Linked DNA regions of Homo sapiens. The protein of the gene in region 1 binds, or shares a complex with, the protein of each later gene. Each region holds a gene or a part of one and is shown in the gene's direction. Other genes may lie near its edges. The genes, in order: POLR1B, POLR2K, POLR1E and POLR1C.

Region 1 (7,014 bases):
GCATTTTTTCTATGTTTATTAGTTGCTATTCTGTAAGGGAGGGCTTTCTTTTCTATTAGTTGTTCATTTATTTATGTTAGCGTAGATTTATAGATGCTTGTTTAATTTTGTGAATATTCTGTTACTACTTATTTTGATGCTCAGAAAGTGTATGAGATTTGATCTAGTGTACAGTTGAGGGTTTTAAGTACATTCATGTTGTGGAGTCATCACCATCTTCAGAACTTTCTCATCATCACAAATTGAAACTCTGTAACCATTAAACAATCATTCCTCTTTTTTTTTTTTTTTGAGGCAGAGTCTCGCTCTGTCGCCCAGGCTGCAGTGCAGTGGTGTGATCTTGGCTCACTGCAGCCTCCGCCTCCCATGTTCAAGCAATTCTCCTGCCTCGGTCTCCCAAGTAGCTGGGATTACAGGTGCACACCACCATGCCTGGGTAATTTTTATATTTTTAGTAGAGATGGGGTTTCTCCATGTTGCCCCGGCTGGTCTCGAACTCCTGACCTCAAATGAGCTACCTGCCTCATTAGTCTCAGATTTTATCTTTTTTATAGAGAATTTATTTTCATTCTCTTTTTTTTGGTTAGCATTGTGGAGCATCGGAGGATGAGGACACTTAAGATCTGCTCTCTTAGTAAATTTCAAGCATGCAATATAGTATTCTTAACTATAGTCACATGCTGTACATGAGATCTCCAGAAACTTAATTTTGTTGCATAACTGAAGCTTTATACTCTTTGACCAACATCTCCCCGTGTCCCCCTCCACCAAACATTCTCTCATTTTTAATGATAATGCATCTAGCTGTGAATCCCCATGAGTTCTGACACATGGGTTTGTTGTTGTTGTTGTTGTTGTTGTTGTTTTCAGGTTTCTGTAATTTAGGTTTTTATTTCTCCTTTCACCCAGGAGTTTGTTGGAGTTTTTTTGTTTTGTTTTTGAGACAGGGTCACTCTGTCACCCAGGCTGGAGTGCAGTGGCATGATCATGGCTCACTGCAGCCTCAACCTCCTGGGCTCAAGTGATCCTCCCACCTCAGCCTCCCGATTAGCTGGGACTACAGGCACGTACCACCACACTCAGGTAATTTTTTAATTTTTGTAGAGACGGGGTTTCATCATGTTGCCCAGGCTGGTCTTGAACCTCTGGGCTCAAGTGATCCACCCACTTTGGCCTCCTAAAGTGCTGGGATTACAGGTATAAGCCACCCCCGGCCCACCCATGAGTTTTTGGTTTATTAAATTTACAAATAAAACCAGTAATCTACTGTATTTTAGATCACAGAGGACAGAATTTCCTTTAGTGTATCGACACGTGCATTCATGGTGTGCTTTATCCTTAGCCTCAGTAGTTAGTGATTTGCCTACTAGCTGGGGTGAGCACCCAAGGAAGTAGGGCTTTTACCATGGCTGAGTGTGGATGAGTGGTATTCCATGGGGCATAAGACTGGCAGCGACAGCCATGGCCTTGGGACAGGTTTGTTAAACTCTGTTTTTGTTAAAAACAGGTGTTGAGAGAGAAAAGAATTCCTCCCTGGATGGAAGTGGTCCTTATACCCATGACAGGAAAACCAAGTCTGTACCCAGGATTGTTCCTTTTTACCACTCCTTGTAGACTGGTACGGCCTGTGCAGAACTTAGCATTGGGCAAAGAAGAGCTAATTGGAACTATGGAACAGGTAAATACATATGTGTGATGGATGAGTGTATGTGCTTGTTTGTATAGTATACAACTTTCAGAGACTTAACTCTTCCTTTTTTAAAAGGGTTGTTAATGTTACAACAACAGTTGGACATTTGAAAGAAAGTCAGACTTTCCACCTCCTCTATGATCAGCACAGAGCAATTTCCATGTCTGATCTCACTCCACAGAACCTGAGAGAGGGCTGGTGGTCACATTACCTGCCTCCCATCTTATCTAGCTCCCAGAACTCCTTTGTACCTGGCTCTGCCTCAGCCGTGAAGTGAAAACATTCCATTAGATTCACACTCAGTCTTTGCCTACATATTTACAGTTGCAAAATTATAGGCTTTGTGCTACTTAAAAATTTTTCTTCCTATTCCCCTTCACAATTGGTCTGGGGTAGTTTTAGAGTGAGATACGTAAAGCAAGTGGTATTTCTAACTGGTCGCTTCCCTGTGCTTCCCAGTTGATCCCTTCAGCACTCATGATGCTGGGTGGGGATGGTTTTCTCTTGAGTCTTTGAGTACTGAACTCTGAGAAATGGTAAGAGTAAATGTGTAACCAGTTGCAGTTATTTTGTGCCTTGGACATCTGCTCTTCCAGATCTTCATGAATGTCGCTATCTTTGAGGATGAAGTTTTTGCTGGAGTTACCACACACCAGGAACTCTTTCCACACAGCCTGCTGAGTGTGATTGCCAACTTCATCCCTTTCTCTGATCACAACCAGAGTCCACGGAACATGTACCAATGCCAGATGGGTAAGGAAGAGGGATGATGTTACAGTCACAATCAGGAAAGTAAACTTGATACTAGCACACTCTTTTATTGTCCTTATTTACATATGCTGACCATTTGTTCCAAAAATACAGTTTATGGCAAGTTTTTCTTTTTTCTGTGCCACAAGCAACCAGCCCAGGATCACTCATTGTATTTAGTTGGCATGTCTATTTAGTTTCCTGTAATTTATGACAGATCTTTAAACATTCTTTGTCTTTGACATTGACATTTTTGAAGAAAAAGGTATAGAATGTCCATAGATTTGGGTGTGCCTGAGGTCTTATTATTTGATTTTTTGAAGAATACAAGCAATTATAGTCACCCGCATATTTATCACTTCCAGTCCTCTTCATTCCTGCTGCAAGATTCAAGTTTTCATTGTATACAATTTTCCTTCAGCCTGATAATCTTCCTTTAGCATTTTTTTATAGTGCAGGTTGCTGGCCACAAATTCTCTTTGTTTTCATTTATCTGAAAATGTCTTTATTTTGCTTCACTTGAAGGAATCTTTCACTGGATATACAATTCTGAGTTGACAGTTATTTTTCTTCCAACACTTAAAAGTTGTTGTTACACTGTCTCTTCTTAGTCTCTGTCATTTCTAGTTAGAAGGCAGCAGTCTTCTGAATATAGTGTGTTTCTTTTTTTTTTTTTTTGAGACAGAGTCTCGCTCTGTCGCCTAGGCTGGAGTGCAGTGGTGTGATCTCGGCTTACTGCAACCTCTGTCTCCTGGGTTCAAGTGATTCTCCTGCTTCAGCCTTCCAAGTAGCTGGGTCTACAGGGACTCACCACCACACCCAGCTAATTTTTGTATTTTTAGTAGAGACGGGGTTTCACCATGTTGGCAAGGCTGGTCTCGAACTCCTGACCTCAGGTGACCTGCCCACTTTGGCCTCCCAAAGTGCTGTATTACAGGCGTGAGCCACTGCGCCCGGCCTCAAATTTTGTTTTTTTTCAGTTTAATTAAATTGCTAAACTCTTCTGTCATTATTTTTAAAAACATTGCTCCTATCCTTTTCTCTCTTTCCTCCTCTTCTATCAGTTATTCATATATTTAAACCTTTTGATATTGTTCCATAAGACATTGAGTTTCTGTTCTCTTTTTTCTTTATTTTCTTCAGATTGGATCTTTTTTTTTTTTTCCCGAGATGGAGTCTCACTTTGTTGCCCAGACTGGAGTGCAGTGGTACAATCTCGGCTCACTGCAACCTCTGCCTCCCATGTTCAATAAATTCTCCTGCCTCAGCCTCCTGAGGAGCTGGGATTACAGGCACACACCACCATGCCCAGCTAATTTTTGTGTTTTAGTAGAGATACGGTTTCACCATGTTGGCCTGGCTGGTCTCAAACTCCTGACCTGAAGTGATCTGCCTGCCTCAGCCTCCCAAAATGCTGGGGTTACAGGTGTGAGCCACTGCACCTGGCCCAGATTGGATTATTTTTATTGACCTATTATCACAGTCACTTTTTATTCTGTCTTCTACTGAATTTTTGCTTACAGTCATGTGCCCTTAACGACAGGGATACCTTCGAAGAAGTGAGTCATATGTGATTTTGTCGTAGTGTGAACATCATAGAGTGAACTTACACAAACCTAGATGGCAGAGACTACTACACACCTAGTATATGGTATAGCCTGTTGCTCCTAGGCTACAAACCTGGGTGGCATGTAACTGTACTGTGTACTGTCTACAGTTGTAAGACAATGGCAAGGATTTGTGTAGCTAAACATAGAAAAGGTACAGTAAAAATATGGGATCACCATAGTATATATGCCATCCTGCATTGACTAAAACATTGTTATGCAGTGCATGCCTGTATTTTTCAAGTCCAGCACTTCTACTTGTTTCTTTTTTTTTTCTTTTTTTTTTTTTTGAGACAGGGTATCGCTCTGTCACCCAGGCTGGAGTGCAGTGGCACGATCTTGGCTCACTGCAACCTCTGCCTCCCCAGTTCAAGCAATTTTCCTGCCTCTACCTCCTGAGTAGCTGAGATTACAGGCATGTGCCACCATGCCCAGCTAATTTTTTGTATTTTTAGTAGAGGCAGGGTTTTATCATGTTGGCCAGGCTGGTCTCAAACTCCTGACCTCAAATGATCTGCCTGCCTCAGCCTCCCAAAGTGCTGGGATTACAGGCATGAGCCATTGCGCCTGGCCTGACTTGTTTCTTTTTTTATAGTTTCTTTCTTCTCTAAGATTTCTTATCTTCATTCATTGTGGGCATGTTTTCCTTTATATTTTGAACATAGTTTTATATGATGGGTGTTGTAAAATCATTATCTGCAGATTCCAATGTCTGGGTCATCTTAGTATCAGTCTCTTTGAGTATAAGTCAAGTTTCACCATTTCTTTGTATGCCCAGTAATATCGGATTGTATTATGAACATTGCGAGGAGTATGTTTTAAACCCTGGATCCTGTTAGGGTCCTCTGAAGAGGATTGGTTTTGTTTGTTTTTAGTGTGGTGTTTGGCCTTCAATTACATTTTAATTTTTTTCATTTTATGTCTTTCCTTCTTAATACACAGTCCATCACCTGGTTCAGTGCATGTCACCAAAAATTCTCCAGGGGAAGAGGATTGGTTTTTAGTTTTCACTGGTACTTAACTTGGTGAACGTGGCAGTTGAAGTACATTCTTCAGCCTTAGGTGGGCTGCTGTGATCTGTCCCATGCATGCATAGTTCAGGAGTCCACCAAAGATTCGGACCCAATTTATATGCTGAATTTAAGGGTCTCCCTTTGTGGTTCTCTCATTTCTGAAATGTTCCCCCTTCCCAATTGTTGTCATGCTCAGAACTCTATTTCTTGGTTCTTCAAGCCAGTAAGATTGTGGGTTTCTATCTAAGTTGTAGCTGCCACACTGGGCCATAAGGCAAAAATAAATACATAAATACTTAAAAACCTGGAAATTCACCCAGTGTGTTCCTTTTGTCCAAGTAAAAATTCTTCTCAGCTTCTGACAGCTTTTGGTTACTCTCCAGTGCTGTATGTGTAGTTGGGGGTCTGCGTCTCATACTTATGTGTTGAGGGTGGTCTAGTAAGAGTAGCCCTTTATTACTGGAAGCTCTAAGTCTATAATTTTTTTAAAAATTTCACTTGTATGTATTTATATTTTAAAATCATTTTGTCGTGAAATGATTCTCTGTACTGTGAGGTAGTACACAGAGGAATCTCACCCCATGCTCCACTACTTAGAATTAAATACATATTCCGCTGTAAGAAAGTAATCTAATTACGTAATAATTCCTATCCCCTTTTCTTCCCCGAGTAGTGATAGCCTGTAATTTGCGTACTTCCTTTCTGTCCCCTTCTAAAGCTTTTATTACATCATACATGTATCCATAAACTAAGTATAGAATTGTTTGGGGTGTGTTGCAAATACACATAAATCGTATCATATTAAATGTCAGTCTGCACTTTCTCCCACTCAGCATGGTTTTCCTGGTCTGGTCACGTTGATACATTTAGGTTTACTTCATTTTCACAGCTTATGTATTAGTCTAAAGTAAGCATAACTACCATGACTATTTATTTGTTCATTTTCCTCTGATGGATATTTAGTTGTTTCCAGTGTTGCGTATCACACCTATAATCAAGATGAAAGCAGCAGAAAATGCTAAGATGTTTTTTCTCCATGTAGGTAAGCAAACTATGGGCTTTCCACTTCTCACTTATCAAGACCGATCGGATAACAAACTGTATCGTCTTCAGACTCCTCAGAGTCCCTTGGTGAGACCCTCCATGTATGATTATTATGACATGGATAACTATCCAATTGGGACCAATGCCATCGTTGCTGTGATTTCTTACACTGGCTATGATATGGAAGATGCCATGGTAAGTTTTACCAGGAAATGTTGTTCCAATCTTTTTATTTTTTAACTTGTTTGTTTACTGTGAAATCACTGAAGGAATATTTTTGTGTACCCAAGTACCTAGTATTTGGCACGTGATGTTCTATTAAATGATTAGTTCTTAGTCTAAGTTGAAAGTGGGCAAGCCTTGAGGAATATCCACTAAATATTCAGATACACGTATGTCTTGCATATTTGAGTGCATATTATGAGTAAATTTTGAAGTTTGGTTTTGGATCTATCTACCTTTTATATTTAAGTATGATTAGATTTTAAGCTATTTCTGTGTGCCTGGGTTTTTGTTTTTCTTGTTTTTTGTTTGTTTGTTTTTTGTTTTTTATTTTTGAGACGGAGTCTCGCTCTGTTGCCCAGGCTGGAGTGCAGTGGCACGATCTTGGCTCACTGCAACCTCCACCTTCTGGGTTCAAGCAGTTCTCCTGCCTCAGCCTCTCGAATAGCTGGGACTACAGGCACCCATCACCATGCCTGGCTAATTTTCGTGTTTTTAGTAGAGATGGGGTTTCACCATGTTGGCCAGGCTGGTCTCGAACTCCTGACCTCAAGTGATCCACCTGCCTTGGCCTCCCAAAGTGCTGGAATTACAGGCGTGAGCCACCGTGCCCAGCCATGTCTGGGTTTTTGTAGTTAGTATCAGTGATTTGGAAAATGTGAGGAAAGTTAAAATGTGATGCCAGTTA
Region 2 (7,755 bases), on another chromosome or scaffold:
GCAGCGCTCCCGCCCGGCCGCCCGCAGGCCTGGGTCCTCGCTTGAGCGGGAGGAGCGCCCCCTCTCTCGCTCACCCCTGCACCCGTCCCGAGGCGGGTCAGAAAGGCTCTGCTTCTCCCCATTCCCACTTTGGGAAGCATTACCGTATTTAGGAATGCTAACGTGGCCTACAGTGGGATGCCATTAGAAATCATGTATGAGAATGTTCCCTTGGAAATGATTCTCCAAACTGTCAAGTGCAAAAAGCAAGTTACAAACTGACCCCTTTTAGGTTAAAAATATGGATATACACAGGATGAGGTCTGAAAGGTATGAATAACTTGGATACGGTAAATTTGTACAGGATTATGTTTGCTTTTTAGTTCTTTTTATCTGTGTTTTCTTCTCATGTTTCAACAATGAATATATACAGATTTTGTGATAAAAAAGCTGAGCCGGGCCTGGTGGCTCACATCTGTAATCCCAGCACAGAGGTGGGAGGATCACTTGAGCCAAGGAATTTGAGACCAGCCTGGGCAACATAGTGAGACCCCCATCTCAAAAAAAAGATTTTTAAAAAATCTATTCATAAAAACCAGAGTGAAATGTGTTCATTGTTTACAAACATCCATTTTTGGGCATCATGAACTCCCAAGTACCCTCAAAGCCAAATAAATTTTTTAAACCCTAATTTTTTCATTCAATAAATATTTACTGGGCGTCTATTATATGCCAGGGACACTCCTGCTGCTCTTGGCAGCTTCTTCCTAGTCTCCTTTTTCTGGCTTCTTTTCCTTGGCCTACTCCCTAAATGAGAGGTCCTACCTCAGCATTTTTATTAGTTTATCATCCCATGCTTATGTAATTCTTATTCAGAACTTCAACCATCACTTTTAAGCCAATAACAGGCACTACCACCACTCTTCTCTGACTGGACATTTCTCCAACTGGATGTCCCTCAGTCATCCAAAACCAAACTCACTAAAATTATTATGAGACAGGGTCTCGCTCTGTCACGCACGCTGGAGTGCCGTGGTGCAATCTTGGCTCACTGCAACCTCCACCTCCCAGGTTCAAACGATTCTCCTGCCTCAGCCTCCCGAGTAGCTGGGATGACAGGCACCCGCCACCACGCCTAGCTAATTTTTGTATTTTCAGTAGAGACGGAGTTTTGCCAGGTTGGCCAGGCTGGTCTCGAACTCCTGACCTCAGGTGATCCACCTGCCTCAGCCTCCCAAAGTGCTGAGATTACAGGCATGAGCCACTGTGCCCGTCCACTAACAGTTATTAAATTCCAACTATGTGCCAATTACTGTGCTAGGTACTGGGAATACAGAGCTGACACAGCCACAGTTACTGCTGTTAAGGAGCTCATTGGTATAGAGCAAGTGCTGTAACAGAGGAACAGTAGCAGCACAAAGGAAAGAAGAACCAGCTAACTCTACTGGAGAACAGAGTGCATGAGATAGATTTTGATGTACAAGTGGCAATTTAAAAGGCAGACAGCAGGAAATTCCAAACTTAAAATGTATAAGGGCAGGAAAATTTCAAACTCAAAACAAAATGTGCAAGAGCAGTTGGGCACATGGAGAAGCTGCAAATAATTTGTTATAGGCAGAAACTAAGAGTTGTTAGAGGAAAGGATTAGAGAAAATTCCTGAGAAGTGAAGAAGCTAAGTCTTGGGAAGTTCTGGTTGCACCTTCAGAGTTTGAAGAGCATTTTAGAAAGTCCACTCTGGTGGCAGAATGGAGGACAGAATGAAGAGAGGCAAGGGTGGCTGCTAGGAGACCAGTAGGAAGCTACTGCATTTCTCCAGAAGGCAGTGGGGGGTGGAGCAGAACCAAGATGTGACATGTTCAGTTGGCAGAATCAACTGCATGGGGCAAGGAGTGAGGGAATGAAGAGTATAGGCTTGGGAGAAAATAAGATGCATTTAGTGTGAGGTTGTTAAGTTTGAGGTACCTGTAGGACTGTAAAGAATTAATGAATTACACATTCTTCAAGACAGCACCTCTCTGAAGCCTACCCCCACACTCCCTGGTAGAGTGAATAGTACCCTCTCTAGCTCTTCAAACAAATCTCTATTACAGCCATTTTACCCTTTCCTGCCCCACATTTGCAATTCTCCTGCAGAATTCTACTGAATTTTCTCTGTGTAGTTTACTACCTTCTAAAATCCCATATTATCTACTCATTTTTGTTTAATGTCTGCTCCCCATCTCCATCCCAATGTAAACAGGGCAGGGAATTTTGCCAATGGTTAAGTAGAATCCACATAACCCCAAAACCATTTAAACATTGCCCTTTTCTTTTTTCTCCAGTTAATTTATTTTTCTTGAGATATTTTATTATGTCTGAGGAGTGAAAGACTATATCATATCTCCTTTATATTGTTCAAGGAAGAATCATTGTCACCTCTCCCCACCTAAAAACGGGCAAAAAGACACCTAGTTATATGTAGTTTGCCTGAGCTTTACTTACATACTCCAGATTGAAGCCACTGAGCTGTAATTTCATATTCTTTACAGTCTTTTGCCTTTTTGCTTCCCTTTTTTTTGAGACAGAGTCTCACTTTGTCACCCAAGCTGAAGTGAAGTGGGGCAATTTCAGCTCACTGCAACCTTCGCCTCCCGGGTTCAAGCGATTCTTGCACCTCAGCCTTCCAAGTAGCTGAGATTACAGGTGCATGCCACCATGTCTGGCTAATTTTTTGTATTTTTAGTAGAGACGGGGTTTCATCATGTTAGCCAGGATGGTCTTGAACTCCTGACCTCAAGCAATCTGCCCGCCTCAGCCTCCCAAAATGCTGGGATTACAGGCGTGAGCCACGGTGCCCAGCCCTTTGCTTTCCTTTCTTGCATTGGGTGTCATCCCATCACTAATTTCAGAACTCTAAAACCCACCTGCTTGCCACAAAATCTGATGCTTCTTTTTGGGACCATCCAATAAAACGTAATGGGAGATTTCCCAAATTACCATGATATTCAAGCTATCTGGATATATTTAAGTGAATATAATCAAGGAAAAAGGAAAGACAGAGATTCAGGGAAAAAATAGCAACTTGCATCTCCATAACCTTCTTAATAAAGAGTTAAAAGCATTGTTTTCCAGGATGGCAAGACAACTACCCCCATTAAAACAGAGCAATGCAATGATGTCTGGCATGTAGTACATGCTCAGAAAAAGTTAATGCTATCATTGATAATAGTGTAGCTTACACTGACCAAACTCCCAAGTGATCCTAGAACTACCAGTCTCTGTTGATAGGAAAGAGCGTGTTGGATTGGGAACTAGCACCAACATGAATTCTTGTTGAAATTCTGGATCTTCTTGCTATGACTTGTCATTACTTTGCCCTTTTGTAGGGCCCCAGGACCCATTTGTATTCTACATATGTTGATCCATTCTGATCTCCATAAATTGTTCTGCACGAGAATTATCTTGATATTTCAACTGGAGAGTTAATATACAAGAGAGCTTGTAAATATGAAAGTTTGACTTTTGGGATCACTCTGTCATCTTTCGCTTAGGATAACAATGGTTCCATCTAATAGTTCTTACAGGGAAGCCTATTGTGCCTCTTGTATTAGATCACCTCTTTGGTTAAGAGGAGAGGTACTTTGTAACAGGGCTAATGGTTAAAATATTTATGCTCTGTTAGCCTGTCTGTGAAGAAAGAAGCCAGGAACTGCTGCGTTTTCCTGAAGGGTTTTTAAATGGCATCTTCCTGGAAAGATCAACTTAAATCTCTCAAGCTGGTCTGGGGAGATGCAACAGAAGGAGTTTGAACTTCTGGAAGTGAAAGGTGAAGCTCAAAGTTCTCAGATTTCTGGATGGAGGGCCCGAAAGGAGTATAACCTGCTTAATAAAATATCAGACATAGTGCGTGTTGGGAGAAAGAACGCCTACTTCTTTCACTAACTTTAAAATAGTTATTAACAATTAAGTTATTTTTAAATTTTTTAAAATAGCTTCATTTTCTTCACCCTACTAAGTAAAATATCTTCTGGAAAAAAAGGAAACAAATGTAAACGTTCTGAACCCAACTGATCCATCATACTGAAATTCTGATACTTGAAAGAACGCACCTCCACTGAGCAGGGCGTTTTGTTCTTCTATGGTGGAATACATAGAACGGAGGGCGGGTGAGTAGACAGCGAAAGCTACCAAAATCTCTTAGATTTAAGAGGGAGTTGTTCATGTAGCTACCGTCACACTAACCTTTGCTTTAAAACAAGTAAACGGATTGGGCGAGGGATGTGACAGTAGCCTATCAGAGAAGGGGCCAGAAAGCAAAAACAAAATCAAGAGAAAGGTAGGAGGCAGCTGCCCCACTGCCCCAGTACAGATATCAAACAATTTTTAAAAACAATCTGGAAAAGTGTTTTTCTACGTGAAAATCATTGGTGTAGTCGATTCTTCTATGTTCGTCCGAGTAACGGCTATCCTAGTACTTCTCGGACACTGTCATCTCGGTTTTTCTTCTAACCCTCTACCCTTCTGGAAAAGTGTTACTTTGTACCACTACATTAGTCAGAAACACACACCGCCTTGTACTTGCATAACTGTTAAAATGCTCTGCTTTCCTGCAAAATTAAAATAGCTGGGGACCAGGCACTTAAACCCGTAGAATCTAATAGACAGAAAGCCCCTGCTTTACCGCCTTTGCGCCATCCGGGTTGTCTGGCCACGCCTGGGGCGGAAGGGGCGGGGAGTAAGAGAGAGAGAAAGAGAGACAGCACTGTGCGTCATGTACCAGCGCCGGAAGTTGGTCTCGACACCTGGACTAGCCGGGTTGTATTTGGAAACGCGGAGTGAGTTTTTCCGTGCTGTGTAGGTAAGCGAATTGGCGGGTTGGGGTTTGTGGTGGATATTTGGGCCAAAACTGGAAAGACACTTGGGGTAAAAAGGTCCGGTATGGGGGTAGAGTTGAGAGTGGCTGGGGATACGGTCCATGCTATCGCTCTTTTCCCTATTTTCTTTTAGTTTAGATGTTTAGCCAGTAGGAGTTATTTCATTGTTCTTCCCTCGGTGAGCCTGTTCCCCTGTTGAGGGATATAATTTTTTTTGGCTAACTTCTGCTAGAGTTTGGGAAAATAGAACTTGTGTTAAACGAGAACGCGAGCTTTACAGTCAGATCTGTATCCCTTTGACTTTTAGTAGCTGAGTGATCCTGCGGAAATTAACATGTCTAAGTATCGGTTGCGTCCTCTGTAAAACAAGAGTGATGTCTCCTAGGATTGTTATGAAGATTATAATGGCCTAACACGTATGAAGTAGTTATTATGTCCAGTTTGGGGTAAACGCTCAATACTTGTGTGTATGCGTTTCGTCCTTGAGACCTAACCCATAGGATTTGGGGAAAGGAACAGATTAGGAATTGGATCTTTGTAGCTTTTCCTGAGAAAAATGGGCCCGGATGGACTTGTGAGAAGCCCTTTTGAGATATTCAGTATTTGAGTCTGTGATTTCAGGGGCTAACAATGGACACCCAGAAGGACGTTCAACCTCCAAAGCAGCAACCAATGATATATATCTGTGGAGGTAAGAGTAGCACTTACCTAAAGTAAGAATATTTTATTTAAGTTTTTTTGAAATTGTTACATTTATTCTTTGCTTAAATGAGTTACTGGTCTTCAGAGTTATAAAGTAGAACACTTTAGCAACCATAAAAAAAATCGTTGAGGTCAGTAGACCTGGGTTCGTCCTTGGTCTTCTGTTTACTAACAGAAAAAAACAAAGCTCGTTGAGATTTCATTCTCTCTCCTGGAAATATGCATGGCCTACAACCTTTTTCTTTCCTATTTAATATATTTAATAAAAGCAGCAGACCCTTGAGATTGAGTATATTTTAGTGTTTTGGATTGCCTTAGGTAAATAATACATTTAAGATAATTTGTCTGTAATATTTTCCTCTTAGGCATTGAGTAAATTTTTTTTTTTAATTCTAGAGTGTCACACAGAAAATGAAATAAAATCTAGGGATCCAATCAGATGCAGAGAATGTGGATACAGAATAATGTACAAGAAAAGGACTAAAAGATGTATCCTTTTAACGATGCTTTCTAAATATGAGTTAGGAGGAAATGAATAATGCTGGGGTTGATAAAGATTAATTTCTGGTTAAAATGATAACTTTCTGGATTACAGTACTTAAAAAACAAACATGATTAGCATTTTCATGGACCAATGCATAGGCTCTAAATAATCTAAATAATGCTAGTTGATTTTGGTTCTCATAAATTTATTTTTTAGGGATTCTGTGCAGTCAAGCTTGAGGATAGGGATACATTCTGAGAATTGTGTCCTTAAGCAATTTCATCATTCCTACAGAAACCTAGACCGTATATCCTACTATACATACACATCTAGGCTATATGGTATAGCTTATTGCTGCTAGGCTACACACCTGTACAGCATGCTATTGTACTGAATAGACAATTGTAACACAATGTTTTTGTATATCTGAACATAGAAAAGGTACAGCAAAAATAGAGTATAATCTTATGCGACCACTGTTTATATGTGCTCCATCTTTGACCAAAACGTCATTATGGGTGCATGACTACATTTATATAAGTATTCATTCTTGAGCTTCAGTTTATGGACAAGCTAAAGTTCACGAGGAGAAATACAAATATTGTGTATACTACCTAATGGAAAAAGTTGGGCATACAAATTGTTCAAATACTGAGAGTAGGCCCAGCATGGTTGCTCACACCTATAATCCCAGCACTTTGGGAGGCTGCAGGAGTTCAAGACCAGCCTGGGCAACATAGTGTGACCCCCATGTGGAAAAATAAAATACAGAGTAAATTGTTATGATACAACTAACACACATTGTAAATCGACGGATTATCCGCTTTAACATTACTTTAGTGTTTTTTTTTGTTTGTTTTTTGTTTTTTTTTGAGACGGAGTCTCGCTCTGTCACCCAGGCTGGTGTGCAGTGACGCAATCTCGGCTCACATTGCAAGCTCTGCCTTCCGGGTTCATGGCATTCTCCTGCCTCAGCCTCCTGAGTAGCTGGGACTACAGGCACCCGCCACCATGCCCGGCTAATTTTTTTTATTTTTTAGTAAAGATGGGGTTTCACCATGTTAGCCAGGATGGTCTCGATCTCCTGACCTCGTGATCCGCCCACCTCAGCCTCCCAAAGTACTGGGATTACAGGCGTGAGCCACTGCGCCTGGCCTGCTTTAGTGTTTTTTGATACATTTTATGGAAAAGGTGGTAATAAAAATTGAAAGTGTTTTTAGTTTATTTAAAAACCAGTTGTCATAGTAAATAGTGAATTCCATTCTTTTTTGCATTTTAAGTTAAATAACAAACCAGCTTATTGCAAAGAGAAAGTGACTTTGAAACCTTCAGTCTTAATAATGTTTAAGTACCGTTTTTGTCCTTAACTCAAATTAATACAGTGGTCGTTTTTGATGCTCGATGAATGCTGGGAATTCAGAGGAATGTCTTCACTTATACTTGGATTTGCTCTCTTCCCATTTCTGATTGTTGTATAGCTTTCGATTTTGCTTACAGTAGTTCCCCCTTATCTTCGGGAGATACATTCCAAGGCCCCCAGTGAACTCCTGAAACCTCAAACAGTACCAAACCTTTATACACTGTTTTTTCCATATATATATACCTATGATAAAGTATAATGTATAAATTAAGCATAGCAAGAGATTAATAATAATGTAATAGAACAATGATAACATACTATAATAAAAGTTATGTGAATGTGGTTGGTCTCTCTTGCTTTCAAAATATCTTCTTGT
Region 3 (7,789 bases), on another chromosome or scaffold:
ATACAGTATTATATCAATTATATAAATGTGCATATGCACAGAGAAAAAAACTAGAAAGAAATACAACCAAATTGAATAATTTTTGCCTTTTTGTGGGGAAGATATCATAGATTACTGTAATTTTATTATTAATATGTTTCTGTATTTTCAACATCAAATATGTATTTATTTGATAAGTTTTTTATCTAATACATATTCAGAAAAATTTAAATATATAAACAGGCTGAATCTAACTTGAGTAAATTTAACAGCCCTTAATACAAAGCTCTGAATTTTTGTTTTTCAAAAAAGTTACAAGGATGATATAACTTAGCAGAAGCAAAGCTAAGAACTTTTGTTTATTCTTAACCCCAGTAAGTTAACTGAGCAGTATAGATGTTTACAACAAATGCACAGGGGATGTGATGAATTCTCCTTGTTCTGTGCTACCCAGCCCAGTGCTGAAGTACTGATCTGTATGGGACCCTGAAGGATCCAGATATACTGGCATATGTCTAGCAGAGGTGACCAGGAAGAGGAGGGACCTAGAAACTTTGGTATGTGAGGGATAATTTTGGCTGGGAGAGGAGAGGAACAGATACATGGAAAGCATGATAGACGTCTCCAGGCTTTTGAAGGGCACAGGCAAGAAGAGCTGATTGTGTTCTGCATGACCCCGGAATGAAGAACTGGAGCTATAGGGAGAAGCTACAGAAGGTAGAGTCAGCTCCATGTAAGGAAAAAACCTGTTCAAGGTGAGAAGTCCACCTTTTAAGGAGTGAGTCATCCATGTGTGTAGGTATGCAAAGAGGGTCTGCATCAGGGATATGAAGGAAAGGAATGGGAATGACCAGAGGAGAGAACAAGAGAGTGAGACAAACACAGAGGGAGAAAGGAAGGGAGGAAAAAGAGAAGCAGAGGGACAAGAAAGGAAGAGAAGAGGTGAGACAGAAGAAGCTATTCTCGGCCGGGCGCGGTGGCTCACGCCTGTAATACCAACACTTTGGGAGGCTGAGGCAGGGGATCACGAGGTCAGGAGTTCAAGAGCAGCCCGACCAACATGGTGAAGCCCCATCTCTACTAAAAATACAAAAATTAGCCGGGCATGGTGATGCACGCCTGTAATCCCAGCTACTCAGGAGGCTGAGGCAGGAGAATTGCTTGAATCCGGGAGGCAGAGGTTGCAGTTAGCCGAGATCGCGCCACTACACTCCAGCCTGGGTGACAGAGCGAGACTCTGTCTCCAAAAAAAAAAAAAAAAAAAAAAAAAGAAGCCATTCCCCAGAGTACAGGGCGAGTCACTGCAAACAGTATGGAATCTGACTCGCCTTTTCAGGTCTTTGTTAGTGTTATCCTGAAACACCAGCAGATGGAGATATTACCCCAGGAAAGGAGGACTTTGCTTTTCTCCCTCTCCTTTTGCCCTCTGGAAAACCATTTTCCTTCTCTGAAAAATGATACTAAAAGAGAACTCCAGGTGTCTCTGAATTATTTCCAAACTAAATTTCCAAAAAAAATTATGTGGTAAATTTTGCCTGTGATTATCCACGATTTGAATATAAAAGAGGCCACCTGGCCAGGTGTGGTGGCTCACGCCTGTAATCCCAACACCTAGGGAGGCTGAGGCAGGTGGATCACTTGAGGTCAGGGGTTCGAGACCAGCCTGGCCAACATGGTGAAACCCTGTCTCTAACAAAACTACAAAAATTAGCCGGGCGTGGTGGTGGGCACCTGTAATCCTGGCTACTCAGGAGGCTGAGGCAGGAGAACTGCTTGGACCCAGGAGGCGGAGGTTGCAGTGAGCCCAGATCACACCACTGCACTCCAGCCTGGGCGACAAGAGTGAGACTCCGCCTCAAAAAAATAAATAAATAATTAAATAAAATAAAAAAATAAAAGAGGCCACTATAGGTTTTTGCATTTTGGTTAATGCCTATGTAGGGCTCCCTCCATCCTGCCCCATCCCACCTCCATCCTGCCCCATCCCAGTTACACAGGCACGTATGTATATGTACATGGTGTGTATAGGTGTGTCTTTTGAATAACTGTTAAATAATTAAACAACACAGGGGTATACTATGATCCCCTTCCCAGCTGCCTGACCATCAACACTTTGCTTCCACGGATAGAATCTCCGTCATTTGGAATTCTTGCCTGTGGTAATTCTAGGAGTTTTTGCTTCAGTGGGTGTGTTGTACTCTTCACTCTTTGTCCTCGCTACAAAACAGTCAATCCAGGGGACTTGCACATAATCTGTCTGACTGGCAAATATGTGCCTTAAAGGGGAATCAGTCCGGTATAACAGTGATTCCTAAACTTCAAGTGCACATGAATCACCTGCAGATCCTGTTGCAGAAGATTTGATAGGGTTGGAGATCCTATATTTCTAACAAGTTCCCAGGTGCTGTCGAGGCTGCTGTTTCCATGGACCACACTTTGAGTAACAAGGCCATACAATGTGTTCCTATATCATGAGTAACAAGGCCATATAATGTGTTCCTATATCACAAGATACTTCTCTTAAGAACTATACTTGGCTCATTGTAGCCACTGTTATCTTGGTCACCTTTAACTTTGATTTAACTGTTCATATTTTCATTCAACCAAAAAACATTTATAGAGTCTGTTATGTGTAAACCCTATGCTAGTTGATTTCAACCAATATTACCAAACATCTTTGAGTTCCAGTCCCTGTGCTAGGCTTCCAAGATTAGTGATAATTCAGGCCCATTCTTTGCCCTGTCATTCATTAATTCATTCCATATTTATTGAGGGTCTAGTATGTTCAGGATTTGGAGATAAAGCAGTGATCAAAACAAACATAAATTTGTTTATTAACCTCCAAAGTGTTTATTGTGAACCCCAAGTAAGTTTAGTGAGGAAACAATCAATGGGTGAGACAATCACACAATTAAGCTCTTCTTTCTTCATCCTTCTTTCTTCTTTCTTCTTCTTCCCTTTTCCTTTCCTGAACAATTCAATCCAAAATCATGAGGTGGGGTCAAGCAAGGTAGCCTTCTAAGGGAGGAAAGGCTATGAGAGCTAAATGCAACACATGATTCTTGACAGGACATTTTTGCTATAAAAACATGATTGGGCCAGCTGCAATGGCTCACGCCTGTAATCCCAGAACTTTGGGAGGCCAAGGTGGGAGGATCACTTGAGCCCAGGAGTCTGAGACCAGCCCTGGCAACACAGTGAGACCTAGTCTCTACAAAAAATTTTTTTAATTAAGAAAAAACAAAACAAAACTGAGTGTGGTGGCACACACTTGTATTCCCAGGTTGTGGTGAGAGGATCACTTGAGCCTGGAAGGTCAAGGCTGCAGTGAGCCCTGGTTGCAACACTGCACTCCAGCCTGGGTGACAGAGTGAGACCCTGTCTCAAAAAACAAACTAACAACAAACGTTGGGACAATGGGTGAACTTAAATGGGATGTGAGGATTACATGGTGGTAATGTACCAGTGCTAATTTCCTGATTCTTTTCTGTTTAATTTTTTTTTTTTTTTTTGTCGCCCAGGCTAGAGTGCAGTGGCACCATCACAGCTCACTGCAGCCTCTGCCTCCTAGGCTCAAGCAATCCTCCCACCTCAGCCTCCCGAGTAGCTGGGACGACACGCGTGCGCCACCACACATGGCTAATATTATTTTTTGTAGAGACAGGGTCTTGTTATGTTGCCCAGCCTGGTCTCAAACTCCTGGAATCAAGGGATAGAACTGCCTCTCCCTCCCAAAGTGCTGGGATTGCAGGCGTGAACCACTGCGCCCGGCAATTTGCTGATTCTGATGGCTGTGTTGTTATTTAGGGAATGTCTGTAGGAAATACTATAGTCTTCAGGGTTGAAAGGGTATCAGGTTGACAACTTACTCTAAATGGTTCAGGGCAAAAACATTTCTTGCAGTGTTTCTTTACGTTTGAGATTGGGTAATTAGAAAAGCGTGACAAGTGCTCAGGCAAAGGGGCATGCAGGCTTTAGGGTTATTCCTAGGATCCTGGGTGTTGGAGGCGGGTGTTGAGGGTGTGTGGAAGGAAAAGAGTCTTGAAAGAAGGTGATTTGGAAGACAGAGGGGAGTCAACCGGAGTTCTTGCCCTTCAATAGTACGCATCTTTGGGCAAAGGGGGCCTCGGCCAGCGTCCATGCTTAAAGGCCCTGCTTTCGCCTTCTTTCTGCTCTGAAAACTCCCCGTGCAGAAGAAGGGTTGAATCCGCAGTGAAAAAGGGACATGTCCATCAGCTCGGACTCCCTCTTCTATTCCAGTCCAGAATCTCCTGCCCAAAGGCTCCGGGGTTGGCTGGGCTTCTGTTCCATCACCTCAGTGTTGATTGGGCCACAGGTGTGCACGCCACAGCCCATGGCGGGGAGCTGTTTGTCGGACTGTGGACAAAGTTTGTACCTAGAGCTGGATGTCCACGTGGGTGGGTGGGAAGCCCTAGAGAGGGGCGGCTATTCGCCAGCGGCCACATTTAGTTGGGGCTCAAGCAGTTCCTGTCAGAGAATTCTAAATTTGAACTTGGTCCTTCAGGTCTTGGGAAGATGAGTTTGTCACGGTAGGAGAGAGAGACGACACTCTCTTTAGAAGGTGCTGAGCCGGAAGAAGGCTCATAGCAAGCTTAGGCTGAAGCCTTTGGCGCCTCGGGCTCTGGACCTACAAAACCCAGAGTGCACGCGAGCGCTGAGCCAATCAGGTGCTGCGCCTCGGCCAGTCAAGCGGGTGTGTGGCACCTTGTGGGCGGAGACCACGCCTCTCTACGCGGGGGGCGGGGACACGCGGCTCGCGCGCTGTGGGCGGTGCCCGGCGGGGCCACGCCTTTTCCGGCCCGCAGCGCGGCCTGGGCTCCCGCGTGTTTAAAAGTGCGCTTGTGGCTGCTGCTGTCTTAACTCCTGTGCTTGGCGGACAGACAGGCGAGATGGCGGCGGAGGTGTTGCCGAGTGCGAGGTGGCAGTATTGTGGGGCGCCCGACGGGAGCCAGAGAGCTGTACTGGGTAAAGACTGCGGAGCTGGAGCAGTGCTCCTCTAACCCTCTCCCCTTCCGTCTCGGTACCTCAGCTGTCCTCTCGCCCTCCGTTGGGCTTCTCCCCAGCGGGGCCGGGACCCCTCTAGTCTCCACCACTCCCCTGGGCTCTGTCAGGGCTCCCCTGTCCGTCTTTCTGTCACTACCTCCCAGCCAGATTGGGACATCCCACTCACCCGCTCCCCAGAGCTGTGTCCAGGACCCTGCTGACCCCCTCACCCACCAGGTCTCCCGCCTCCCCCATTTCCCTCTCTTCACTGGGCAGGGGTTCCTTCTGTCACTTTAGGTATGTACCAGGCCTCTGCTGTCAGCCTCCTTCCGCGAGACATTCCCTCCTGTCACAGCCCCTCCCCAGGGTTCTCCCACCTCCCTACCTCCTCTTCTCAGCTGGCCCCGGATCTCCTCCAGTTCCCTTTGGGTCAGGACCCGAGCTTCCTTGCCATCCCCATTCTGACACTCCCTCCCAGTGACAGTCTAGTCCCACCGTACATTGTGTGGTACATTGTGTGGCCTTCTGCTCTCATCTCATTCTTGGGCTGCACTCTTACAGTCCAGTTCTCCAACGGGAAGCTACAGAGTCCAGGCAACATGCGCTTTACCTTGTATGAGAACAAAGATTCCACCAACCCCAGGAAGAGGAATCAACGGATCCTGGTAAGTGAAGCAGTTGCCAGCTGTCTCCACTCTGCAGGGCTCAGAAGGCCCCTGGGAGTGGGTGGATGTGGGAGGGAGTGAGGGGAGAAAAAGGGGAGTAGTAGCAAATGGAGCTTTGAAGAACTCTGATGCCCAGCAGCCTGGGATGTGGGGACAGGCTCCATCTTTCATTCATTTGTTCTTTCAACAAGCATTTATGGAACCTGCCCCTCTGCATCCCTGTGCTGCAAGCTTCTAGGAAAACAGCCAAATCAGGCCTAGCCCCACTCAGAGTTCATACTCTAGAGCAGGGTTTCTCAACCTCAGGACTATTGACTTTTTGGGCCAATAATTCTTTGCTGTGGGGGCAGCATCCCTAGTCTCTACTCATTAGATGCCAGTAGCACCAGAGTGGATTTCCCTGGATTGAGAACCTCTGCTCTAGAGAGATGAGAACTGGCTGTGAGGGACACTTTTACACAAAGCTCTGAGGCCACGTGGGGAAGAGTACAGGGCAGAGTGAGCTCAGTGGGAGGAGAGGTCTCTGCCAGAATGCCTTCCTTGGTGAGGTCATGTTGGAGCTGAGCCTTGAAGGCTGGAATGAGGGTTTGGCAGTCAACGTTTGGTGTTTCGAGTGAAAAGGATAGTGAGGACAAATGCAGAGAAGCAGGAAAGCTTGCTTATGATTGGGGAGTGAATCAGCCATGGTCCTGAGAGTATACAAAGAACAGGCCAAAGAGAGATTGCTTACAGAATCACTTTGTTGCATACCTTTAAGTGCCAGAAGCCCAGGGCCTCTCTCTCAAGTCTTGTGGCAGAATTCCCCCAAGAGCTTTTCATACCATTTAGAAGCTAGCACCATCTGAGGCTTCTCTTCCAGAAGTCGTCTTGCTTCCCCTGCAGGGACACCCCATATTCCCTTAGAGATAGTGGGGCTGGATCATCTGCCAGAGATGAACTAGTTCTAATCCATTGTGAGTCTGGATTCAAAAGCCTCAGCAAATGTAGAAAAGAGAAATGATGCTTAATACCTTTCAACATTGGTTGTAAATGGAGTTTCCCCTCTCTGCATTTTAGGCAGCTGAAACAGATAGGCTCTCCTATGTGGGAAACAATTTTGGGACTGGAGCCCTCAAATGCAACACTTTGTGCAGGTAATGGCAGGGGAAGGGACAGTGGGAAGGGTGATGGGGTTGGGAGTGGTGGCAGCACTGGCACTGCTGTTTCCTGTCTGTTTTAAGGGTAGCAGGAGCCATCTAGAGAGGTTTACTAGGTGATCCCTGTGTTCCTATTAGACCCAGAGCCCTTCCCTGCACGTGTAGACGTTGCTGGAAAGGAAAGATAACTTGAATTTCCTAAAAACCTCATTCATTTGTAATCTTGTTTATTTATAGCTGTCTTATTCCAAAAGGCAGGTCTCTCCATTAATTTGGAATGTGTGACTAGTAGGTCAAAGCTTGCGTGAAGTTTACCTGGGAACTAACGACAGGTAAAGAACTTGGTAGTGTTGAAGGCTCTGGACTGGGAAAGAGGAGCCTGGGATTCCCATCCAGCTGTGCTGCTGATTGACTGAGTGGCTGGGTAACTCTGCGCATCACTGACCCCCAGCCTCCCCCTCTGTACAGTGAAGATTGTCCAGCCTGAACTGTATCACTCTCGGGGGCTGGCATGATGCAGACAGGGCCCTGTGATGGTACCCAACAATGAACTACAAACTAGGCCCTTTCTGAGCCCCGGTGGACCATACTCCAATAGAGGAGAGGTCAGATGGGTGTATAGGTGCTGAGAACTATTAACCCTGCACTCTCCCCTCTCAGAGATGCCCTAGTTCCAATTGGTCTCCTCCCCGTTTACTTGATTTTGCCTCCATAAAACTGTTGTGCCATAAATTGTAGTGTAATTCTAGGTTCGTACACCCCAAAAGAGTTTTCCATTACACTACCGCAGTGAGCCCAAATGTGATCAACTATCAGAATCACCTAGTAGCTTTTTTTTTTTTCCCAGAACCACCTCATATCCTCCCATCCCATCCTATCCTTTCCTATTCCCTCTCTATGCAGAGAATTGCTGTGGGGTAGGGGTAGGGGAGATTATTGTTACCCATGAGTAGATGATGCATTCCTCAGGTGTGTGGGCAGAGAGAAGGTTGAGAACTTTTGAAC
Region 4 (7,752 bases), on another chromosome or scaffold:
AGCGAGGATCAGATGGGCCCAGCCCACCAGCCATCATATCTAGCTTCTTGCTCTAGGCAGCTGCTTTCCCATTCTCCCCCACCCAGACCTTCCTGCCACTTACCCTCTACCACTTTGTGGTAGGCAAAATGCAGATAGAGCAGGAAGAGCATGTGTAGGGCAGCCAGGGTGCCACAGAGGAGCAGCCGCTGTGTGGGGCCCACGGTCCGAGACACCAACACTGCTACCTAGGACCATGAGAATACAGCTCAAAGGGCCTGGCTCCAAAGTGAGGAGTGGGGACAAGACACCCCCACCCAGGGCAGAACCATCTTTGGGCTCTTCCCTCCCATTTAGGGCTCTTTGTGAGATGGACAGCTCCAGGCTGTCTTCCCCAACTCCCTGGGAGGACAGCCCACCCCTGGAAGCCTCTTGCCCAGCTTACCATGCGCAGTGTGGACAGTCCACCCACCAACAGCCAGAAGAGGTAGAAGAGGGCGTGGAGGTGGATATTATAGGTGATGAACAGGACAATGCAATGCCCAAAGAGGCCATAGCCCTGGGAAGGAGGATGGTGGAGAGGAAAATCATTCAGGTTGGGCTGCTTTCTGGCCCCTCATGGGGACCCTGGGAAACACATGGTCCATTGGCCTACTCCTCCCATTCCAGGCTTTGGGGCCCCAGGACAGATGCCGACCAAGGCCTGGCTACTCTTTTTAACATCACTCTTGCCCACCACACCTGGCTCCTTACCAGCAGTGCCAACATCTGCAGCATGGTGATCTGGGCGTTGCACAGGTAGGCAAGGAAGTAAATGAAGGATGAGACTCCCAGCCAGTAGCCGAAGCAGGTGCCAATGGCTGTGCCCATCAGGGTGCCCTCCCGCTGTGGGGTGAAGGCTCTATTTAGTCCTAGGAGGCCTCTGATCTCAGCCTCACCTAGGGCCTTCCGCAGGGGCTGTTCCTGTCTCACTCCACCATTGTATCCTCAGGCAGCTTTCAACCTAGTGCAGCCACCCCCCCAAAGTTGTCTGTCCTGCTTACGATAATAGTGTCAGACGTCTTCATCCCATGGAGTAGGATAGCAACCAGAGTGAAGACCAGCATGAGAGGTCCATAGAGTTCACCTGCAATTTTCTGTCAATATACCAATTCATTCAGGCTGGAGGGTACAACAGCTCATCTGTTTATGGCTTCCCAGGATTTGCCTGGTGGTCCCACCCTCTGCCCTGGTGCTTCCCCCGGCTCTCCAGACATGCCACCCTCTATTCACCTGGGGGAAGTTGACCATCTTGATAGGGATCATGGACTCCAGGAGCCTGGGAGAGGAGAGGAGAGATTAAAGCAAAGGCAGCACAAGGCCATGAGGTTCTGGAGGGCAAGGCCTGAATTTTATTCATCTCTAACTCCAGGGAATGGGGCCTGGCCTAGAAGACATGTTGGATGACACGGTAGAACAGGGTAGTAAAGACAGATAGGGAATGAGGAAATCATTTCCTTGCCCCTAAAGTTACTTCCAGGAAGGACAACCCTCTGAAACTTAGCTGACTGAAACAGCAGCTATATGGAGAACTCAGCCCTACTGGGCCTTGAAGGAGGGCCCGACCATGTATCCGTCTGCCCCCTCCCCTTGAAAAGACAGGCAGGCTGGGCGCGGTGGCTCACGCCTGTAATCCCAGCACTTTGGGAGGCCGAGGCAGGCAGATCACAAGGTCAGGAGTTTGAGGCCAGCCTGGCCAATATGGTGAAACCCTGTCTCTACGAAAAATACAAAAAATTAGCTGGGCATGGTGGCGGGCGCCTGTAGTCCCAGCTACTCAGGAGGCTGAGGCAGGAGAATTGCCTGAACCCGGGAAGCGGAGGTTGCAGTGAACCGAGATCGCGCCACTGCACTCCAGCCTGGGTGACAGAGTGCGACTCCATCTCAAAACAAAACAAAACAAAGACATGACAAGACAGGCAGACCTCAGCAGAGAGTACCCAGAATTCAGGGTTATAATGAGGAAGCCCTGGGAAAAGTCTAGCCGGCTAGATGGAAAGTTTAGAATGAAAGGTGTTACTGAGGGAATAGTAAAAACGCCTCCTCTTCCTGCTTATCTGTGCCTCCAGGCACTTTCGAGTATTTTCTTGAAAAATATATGTGAAGTGGTATGAAAATTTAGTCACTTCCCTCTTCTCTCAAGTGGCTAGCTCCTAATCATACCTGGGATTTTAGCTAGGTTTTACTTCCTCTGGGAAACTTGTCCTGTCCCACCCACCAACCTGCTTTGGCTCACATATCCCTCCTGTGTGCCCCATCATAGAATGAGTACTGTACTGTAACTGCACTCAAGAGCAAGGCTCCCATCTATCTTCACCACTGAACCAGATACGATTAGTTTAGCGTCTGGCACAGAGCAAATGCTTAATAAATACCTGCTGAGTGGTCCTGGGTATTTGATTAGCATTGATTAAAGGATGAACAAAAAAACCAAGCCAGGATTAAATCTAGTTCTTGAAAAGTCACTCAAAAACTATGCCCTGATATTTTGATTCTGAGACTGTTCTGGTGCTGGGAATAAAAAGATAAACAAGACAGAGCCTGCTTTTGAGATGCTGTTGGTCTCTGGAAGGAAGATTCCAGGAATAAGAAAGGATAGCAGTGGTGAAGTGCTGTCTATTAGAGGCAAGCGCAGAGTTCTTTTTTTTTTTTTTTTGAGATGGAGTCTCACTTTGTTGCTCAGGCTGAAGTGCAGTGGCACGATCTCGGCTCACTGCAAGCTCCGCCTCCGCCTCCCAGGTTCATGCCATTCTCCTGCCTCAGCCTCCCGAGTAGCTGGGACTACGGGCACCCGCCTGTCTAATTTTTTTTGCATTTTTAGTAGAGACAGGGTTTCACCGTGTTAGCCAGGATGGTCTCGATCTCCTGACCTTGTGATCCGCCCGCCTCGGCCTCCCAAAGTGCTGGGATTCCAGGCGTGAGCCACCATGCCCGGCTGGCAAGCACAGAGTTCTATAGGAACACCAGGAGAGAACAAACTGGGGATGGGATTGAGGAATGTGGAACAGAGGAAGTGACATCTGAGGTAGGTTTTGAGGGAAGATGAGTAGTCAGTTAGATGGAAAAGAAGAGGAAGATGGTGTGCTATTATTACTTGTTTCAGTGACAGGTGCAGTGATGAGAGGTGATGGGGTCATGAAGACGGGGAGCCCATCAGAGCCCAGGGCTTGAAATCTGACTGTAGTGTGCATGAAGGTCTAGGTGTTAGGAGGGAAGCTTCTTCAAGAGAAGGCTCCTCACCTGCTTCGCACCTGAGCAGGCTCCACATCAAAGTAGGGTCTGAGGATGTCGATGTTGGCGTACAAGCTGAAGGCCCTGGAGGCTTGTCTTTTCCCAGCCTGCCACATCTGAAGTAAGGAAGATGGGCATAGGTATTGTGGTACTGTTGGTTCTAGATCCTGTTGCCTATTTTCCGTTTGATTTCTACATGGTTCTAACTGGACAACCTGGGGCGAACATCACCAACACCAATTCCAGAACACGGGACATACCTAGGTCTACTTTTCTACCTGCAGAGGATTCAATCTTGCTTACCTGATCTGCCACCTGCCGGCTCAGCTGTCCCTTAAAGCCCTTCATGCCCAGGAACTCTCCATCCTCCTCTTCAGCAGCAGCTGCATCAGCTGCATCAGCGTCTACTTCTTCCTCGCGCAGGCGCTGATGCAGCTCACCCATATCCTCGAAGCTAGAGCCTGAGGTATCATCCATGTTCTCCATGTCAATCACAGCTGAGCCTCCGCCCTGTGAAGACAATGGCTCCTAGAGTGCAGGACTTTTCTGTTCCATCCATTAAGTCCTCTGCTCATCCCAGGGTTTAGGGCTTTGTTCTTCCACTGCTGAGGATACGGCTTGGAATCACTACAGATCATGCCACTCCATTCCCCCTCATATGCTCTCAGAACGCCTGGTTTCTAGCTTTGGCTATCTTTTCTAGCCTGGGAAACCTACTAGTCTTCCATTCATGTCTTTCTCCTATGTTACCTATCAAAGACTAAAAGGCTGAAAAAGTGCCCATTTCCTTCTTTCCTAAGCCCCAAACAAAACTATACACATAGTATGTTTTCAGCGAATGCCAGTGAATCCCACCCAACCCCACTCCATGCCTTACCCCGACCAACCTCCTAACTTGTTCCAAGAATACCTTCTTCCTAATGCCTCGGGCGGGCCCTGAAACCCGAGATCCTCAGGCTGGAGTAGTAGTCTGGCCCTTTCAGGTCAATGTTAATCCCACTGACTTTAGTGTGCACGAAGACCCAAAGAAGAGAGTTTTGTAAATGGAGCGGACTTCCAGGCCCAGAGGGGGAATCCCCAAGACACTTCTGGACATCGCCGGCCCTCCGGCTGCTGGCAGCTGGTGCCTTGGGGCCATTACCTGGATGTTTTCTTCGAACCCTCCCCATTCCGGGCCAGCTCCATTTCGGGCGCCGCCCGCCGGCGCCGCTGTAGTTGCCATGTCCCTTGAGGGCTCCCGTCGCTGAAACCCGCGCTAGCCCCGCGCGCGGAGTGGGCAAGATGTGGGCCTCCGGAAGGTAGACGTCCAGGGTCGAGGAGAGGTGGGATCGGCCGGAACACAAAAAGGAGAAGCCCGGATGTTTGGACAAAAGCAACTTCCGGAAGCTGGGGACGTGGACGGGGGCGGGGAAAAATCTCGCGATATTTAAGATTCCAGGAGGCGGTGCGTTGCCACGGAGACGGAGCAGGGCTACTAGGACGCACGCGCGAGATAGAACCTCTAGTCTCGTGGAGAGATTGAAGATGGCGGCTTCTCAGGCGGTGGAGGAAATGCGGAGCCGCGTGGTTCTGGGGGAGTTTGGGGTTCGCAATGTAAGCCTTGTGGCCTTGAGCTCGGGCGGGAGGAATGAGAGCGGAACAGGGATGGGTCTTGGGATTGGCGTGGGGATAGCTGTGGGCTCACTGTCCCTTCGTGGACAAATTCGTCCCTTTGCTCTAGGTCCATACTACTGACTTTCCCGGTAACTATTCCGGTTATGATGATGCCTGGGACCAGGACCGCTTCGAGAAGGTAAGTGGGGCCGGAGTTGTCTGGGGAGGGTTATGAAGGCCAGACCTTGTGGTCTGAGCAGCCTGTGTCTGTCTCAGAAGCTGCTCTTGGGGGTCGCTCCGTTTGTAAGTTTGTTGAGCAATGTGCTAGACGCTCCGTTTACAGGCCAAATTAGACACGGTTTCTACCCAGTTCTGCAAAGATGTTCAGTCTTGTTGAGGAATGGTGTGTATAAACAGTGAATCTAGTGTAATATGGTGAAGGTGGTTGATAGCGATGAAGACGGCAGGGTTGGGGTGGGGAGCATTACGCTGAGACCAGGAAGAGGGGCGGAGAGGTACTTAACATTTCAAGAGGAGGGTACATCTCAATTGAGCCTTGAATGGTAAGTAAAAAAGAACAGGAGTTAAATTATGAAGGGTTTGTTTCAAGTCAGTGAAGTTCAGGATATACAGGTTTTGTGTGTATTTAGTCTTTTGTATTGTTTCACTTAGCTTAAAATAAGGGTTAAAATTGCATTTAAATAGATTACTGAATGTTACCGTTTAGGCAACTGACCTTTGCGTGCAGCTTATAAACATGATCTGTAAATCAGTGCTTGGGAAAATTTTACTTTTTTAACCTGTTGATACAAGGAATAAAGTATGAACAATGAAAAAGGTTAATGCTTGAAAAAAAATTATGGCTTGTGTGAAGTGTGCTCCGGGCATGTCCAAGTAGTTCTGGCATGAGTGGTAGGCAAGGTTGAAGTGTGTCTTGGGCACTGTTGATGATAGGGAGATTGAATAGTTCTTAAGCAGACATGATGAGATTTGCAACCTTGGTGGCTGGGAGGGAATGAGTTTGAGGAGGATCATATGGAGCAGGCAGATCTGTTGTAAGGGAAGCTGAGGTTGAAGACATGAACTAAGACTGATGGTAGAAATAGAGCAAAGGTAGAATAGAAGGTAAATTTATGATTGCTTTGGTAAAGGCTGTGGGGGTAGCATAAAATGACTTTTTGGCTTGGGAACTGCTTTGATGCATTGTGGTATCATTTACTGAGAGGAGAAATGGGTCTGGGGAACGGGAATGATGATGCATTGTTTTCTGCATGTGGAGAAATCTAGCAGGCTAGAAGACTGCATGCTTGAAATGAGATCAGAAGTGAGATAACATTTTGGGAGTTGTCAGAACAGATAGTTGCTAAAACTGTTAGTACAGTTAAGGTGACCTGGGAGAGAGACAAGAACCTGGCAAATTTAGAGATGGGTGGAAGTCGATCATCAGAGAAGGAAGAAGAGTGGAGCTCAGAGCTCAGAAACCAGGGGAATAGTTCAAAAAAGGAGGAGATTTTTTTCTTTGCTTTTCATGAGGCACTCTTATGTCCCAGGCTGGAGTGCAGTGGCGCGATCTTGGCTCACTGCAACCTCCGCCTCCCGGGTTCAAGCAGTTCTGCCTCAGCCTCCCGAGTAGCTGGGACTACAGTCATGCGCCACTATGCCCAGCTAATTTTTTGTATTTTTGGTAGAGACGGGGTTTCACCATGCTGGCCAGGCTGGTCTCAAACTCCTGACCTTGTGATCTGCCCGTCTCAGCCTCCCAGAGTGCTGGGATTACAGGTGTGAGTGACTGTGCCGGGCCAGGAGGGGGTTTTTTAATCAATGCCAAGCATAACAGAAGTCTAGTAAGAGGACTGAGTAGTGTCAACAAAACTAAGCACTATGGTAGTTTCTGTTCTTCAGTAGAATAGCTTCTGTGGATGGTTTGGTTGGAAGCCATATTGCATAGGGTTTTAATGAATGGACGACAAAAATGGAGACTTTTCATGAAACTTAAAACACTGGGCGAGATAGAATATTTAATAAGAGACATTTGGGCAAAGGGAGGTTTTTGGATGAGAGGATAATACTTGAGGGAATTATCTAAGGGGGAGGTATGAAGAGATATTACACAGAGAGCAGATTTCACTTAAATGTTTTTTCCTGTCCCTCTAGAATTTCCGTGTGGATGTAGTACACATGGATGAAAACTCACTGGAGTTTGACATGGTGGGAATTGACGCAGCCATTGCCAATGCTTTTCGACGAATTCTGCTAGCTGAGGTATTGGCAGGCATGGTGACAAGGCTGGAGTTGCTTTGGGAACTGCACTGACACCTCACTTGGAGAATTAAGTGTCTCAAGCTGTCCTTCCCTCCTTAATTTTCCTGGAATTTTGCTGAGCATTTTACCTTCTCATTCTTTGTAAATTTCTCATTAAACATTCTAGGAAGAGAGATAGCTCCCTACCTCTGGAGGTTGGGGTTACGGGGATAGGTAGGGGGTCTGTTGGGTTTTTGCAGATAAGTGGTTATTTTTCCTTGGGCAGGTGCCAACTATGGCTGTGGAGAAGGTCCTGGTGTACAATAATACATCCATTGTTCAGGATGAGATTCTTGCTCACCGTCTGGGGCTCATTCCCATTCATGCTGATCCCCGTCTTTTTGAGTATCGGAACCAAGGTGAGAAAATGAAATTTTGGGAGAAGTGGACTATCTGGGTTCAAATCCTGGTTGACTGTGATGTTGGGTAAGTTACTTATCTTTGTACATCAGTGTCTTTCATCTGTGAGAACACTTGCCTTGTCTCCCAAGTTTGCCATAATTAAATGGGAAACACGTAAAGCATTCAGCATAGTGCTGGCACTCAGACGTTTACTAGTTCTTAGGAGCTCCCTCCATTTGTGCAGGAGATGAAGAAGGCACAGAGATA

The links.
Region 2: the proteins of POLR1B (region 1) and POLR2K are in contact, whole or in part, in a cryo-EM structure (PDB 7OBA), measured with the Homo sapiens proteins. Residues at the interface, in NP_061887.2 of Homo sapiens: Val87, Ile92, Cys93, Lys94, Glu95, Val98, Ala101, Glu102, Gly105, Arg106, His159, His160, Gln704 (codon at 6,138), Asp705 (codon at 6,141), Val793, Phe794, Gln805, Asp808, Asp809, Asp810, Leu812, Pro813, Phe814, Ile815, Gly816, Ala817, Lys818, Leu831, Val848, Asn851; in NP_005025.1 of Homo sapiens: Met15 (codon at 5,506), Tyr17 (codon at 5,512), Gly20 (codon at 5,521), Glu21 (codon at 5,524), Ser30 (codon at 5,958), Arg31 (codon at 5,961), Asp32 (codon at 5,964), Pro33 (codon at 5,967), Ile34 (codon at 5,970), Arg35 (codon at 5,973), Cys39 (codon at 5,985), Gly40 (codon at 5,988), Tyr41 (codon at 5,991), Arg42 (codon at 5,994), Ile43 (codon at 5,997), Met44 (codon at 6,000), Tyr45 (codon at 6,003), Lys46 (codon at 6,006), Lys47 (codon at 6,009), Arg48 (codon at 6,012), Arg51 (codon at 6,021), Val53 (codon at 7,404), Val54 (codon at 7,407), Phe55 (codon at 7,410).
Region 3: the proteins of POLR1B (region 1) and POLR1E are in contact, whole or in part, in a cryo-EM structure (PDB 8A43), measured with the Homo sapiens proteins. Residues at the interface, in NP_061887.2 of Homo sapiens: Lys254, Ser258, Phe259, Ser260, Tyr262, Gln263, Gln266, Ser295, Thr296, Gln297, Ser338, Thr340, Glu341, Ala532, Cys535, Pro541, Ile542, Asp543, Gly544; in NP_071935.1 of Homo sapiens: Gln27 (codon at 5,547), Ser29 (codon at 5,553), Asn30 (codon at 5,556), Gly31 (codon at 5,559), Tyr69 (codon at 6,729), Thr76 (codon at 6,750), Leu79 (codon at 6,759), Lys80 (codon at 6,762), Cys81 (codon at 6,765), Leu84 (codon at 6,774), Cys85 (codon at 6,777), Met109, Gln110, Pro111, Leu112, Phe113.
Region 4: the proteins of POLR1B (region 1) and POLR1C are in contact, whole or in part, in a cryo-EM structure (PDB 7OBA), measured with the Homo sapiens proteins. Residues at the interface, in NP_061887.2 of Homo sapiens: Arg713 (codon at 6,165), Gln715 (codon at 6,171), Lys761, Ala762, Glu765, Arg766, Gly767, His770, Tyr774, Gly816, Val848, Arg872, Pro874, Glu900, Asp901, Phe904, Glu906, Gly908, Lys967, Gly970, Tyr971, Asn972, Phe973, Tyr974, Arg978, Tyr980, Ser981, Gly982, Ile983, Ser984; in NP_976035.1 of Homo sapiens: Ala70 (codon at 7,063), Asn74 (codon at 7,075), Arg77 (codon at 7,084), Arg78 (codon at 7,087), Leu81 (codon at 7,096), Ala82 (codon at 7,099), Gln102 (codon at 7,424), Asp103 (codon at 7,427), Glu104 (codon at 7,430), Ile105 (codon at 7,433), His108 (codon at 7,442), Leu112 (codon at 7,454), Lys220, Asp221, His222, Ala223, Thr230, Ser232, Tyr233, Arg234, Leu235, Asp281, Thr282, Phe283, Ser284, Glu286, Arg289, Arg301.

What each region holds. Positions count from the first base shown.
Region 1 is NC_000002.12:112,566,460-112,573,473, forward strand, and holds part of POLR1B (DNA-directed RNA polymerase I subunit RPA2), read left to right. Parts: intron 1-298; coding exon of another isoform or gene 299-436; intron 437-1,507; coding exon 1,508-1,678; intron 1,679-2,286; coding exon 2,287-2,443; intron 2,444-6,102; coding exon 6,103-6,299; intron 6,300-7,014. UniProt on the Homo sapiens protein: Catalytic core component of RNA polymerase I (Pol I), a DNA-dependent RNA polymerase which synthesizes ribosomal RNA precursors using the four ribonucleoside triphosphates as substrates.
Region 2 is NC_000008.11:100,145,893-100,153,647, forward strand, and holds the start of POLR2K (DNA-directed RNA polymerases I, II, and III subunit RPABC4), read left to right. Parts: upstream 1-4,743; 5' UTR 4,744-4,817; intron 4,818-5,454; 5' UTR 5,455-5,463; coding exon 5,464-5,524; intron 5,525-5,931; coding exon 5,932-6,024; intron 6,025-7,401; coding exon 7,402-7,424; 3' UTR 7,425-7,755. UniProt on the Homo sapiens protein: DNA-dependent RNA polymerase catalyzes the transcription of DNA into RNA using the four ribonucleoside triphosphates as substrates.
Region 3 is NC_000009.12:37,481,159-37,488,947, forward strand, and holds the start of POLR1E (DNA-directed RNA polymerase I subunit RPA49), read left to right. Parts: upstream 1-4,789; 5' UTR 4,790-4,889; coding exon 4,890-4,965; intron 4,966-5,074; exon of another isoform or gene 5,075-5,282; coding exon of another isoform or gene 5,283-5,544; coding exon 5,545-5,648; intron 5,649-6,704; coding exon 6,705-6,781; intron 6,782-7,789. UniProt on the Homo sapiens protein: Component of RNA polymerase I (Pol I), a DNA-dependent RNA polymerase which synthesizes ribosomal RNA precursors using the four ribonucleoside triphosphates as substrates.
Region 4 is NC_000006.12:43,512,337-43,520,088, forward strand, and holds the start of POLR1C (DNA-directed RNA polymerases I and III subunit RPAC1), read left to right. Parts: upstream 1-4,752; 5' UTR 4,753-4,773; coding exon 4,774-4,842; intron 4,843-4,969; coding exon 4,970-5,041; intron 5,042-6,996; coding exon 6,997-7,104; intron 7,105-7,369; coding exon 7,370-7,502; intron 7,503-7,729; coding exon 7,730-7,752. Other genes in the region: protein YIPF3, read right to left, coding at 104-227, 425-538, 733-864, 1,023-1,115, 1,252-1,297, 3,259-3,365, 3,553-3,759, 4,391-4,471. UniProt on the Homo sapiens protein: DNA-dependent RNA polymerase catalyzes the transcription of DNA into RNA using the four ribonucleoside triphosphates as substrates.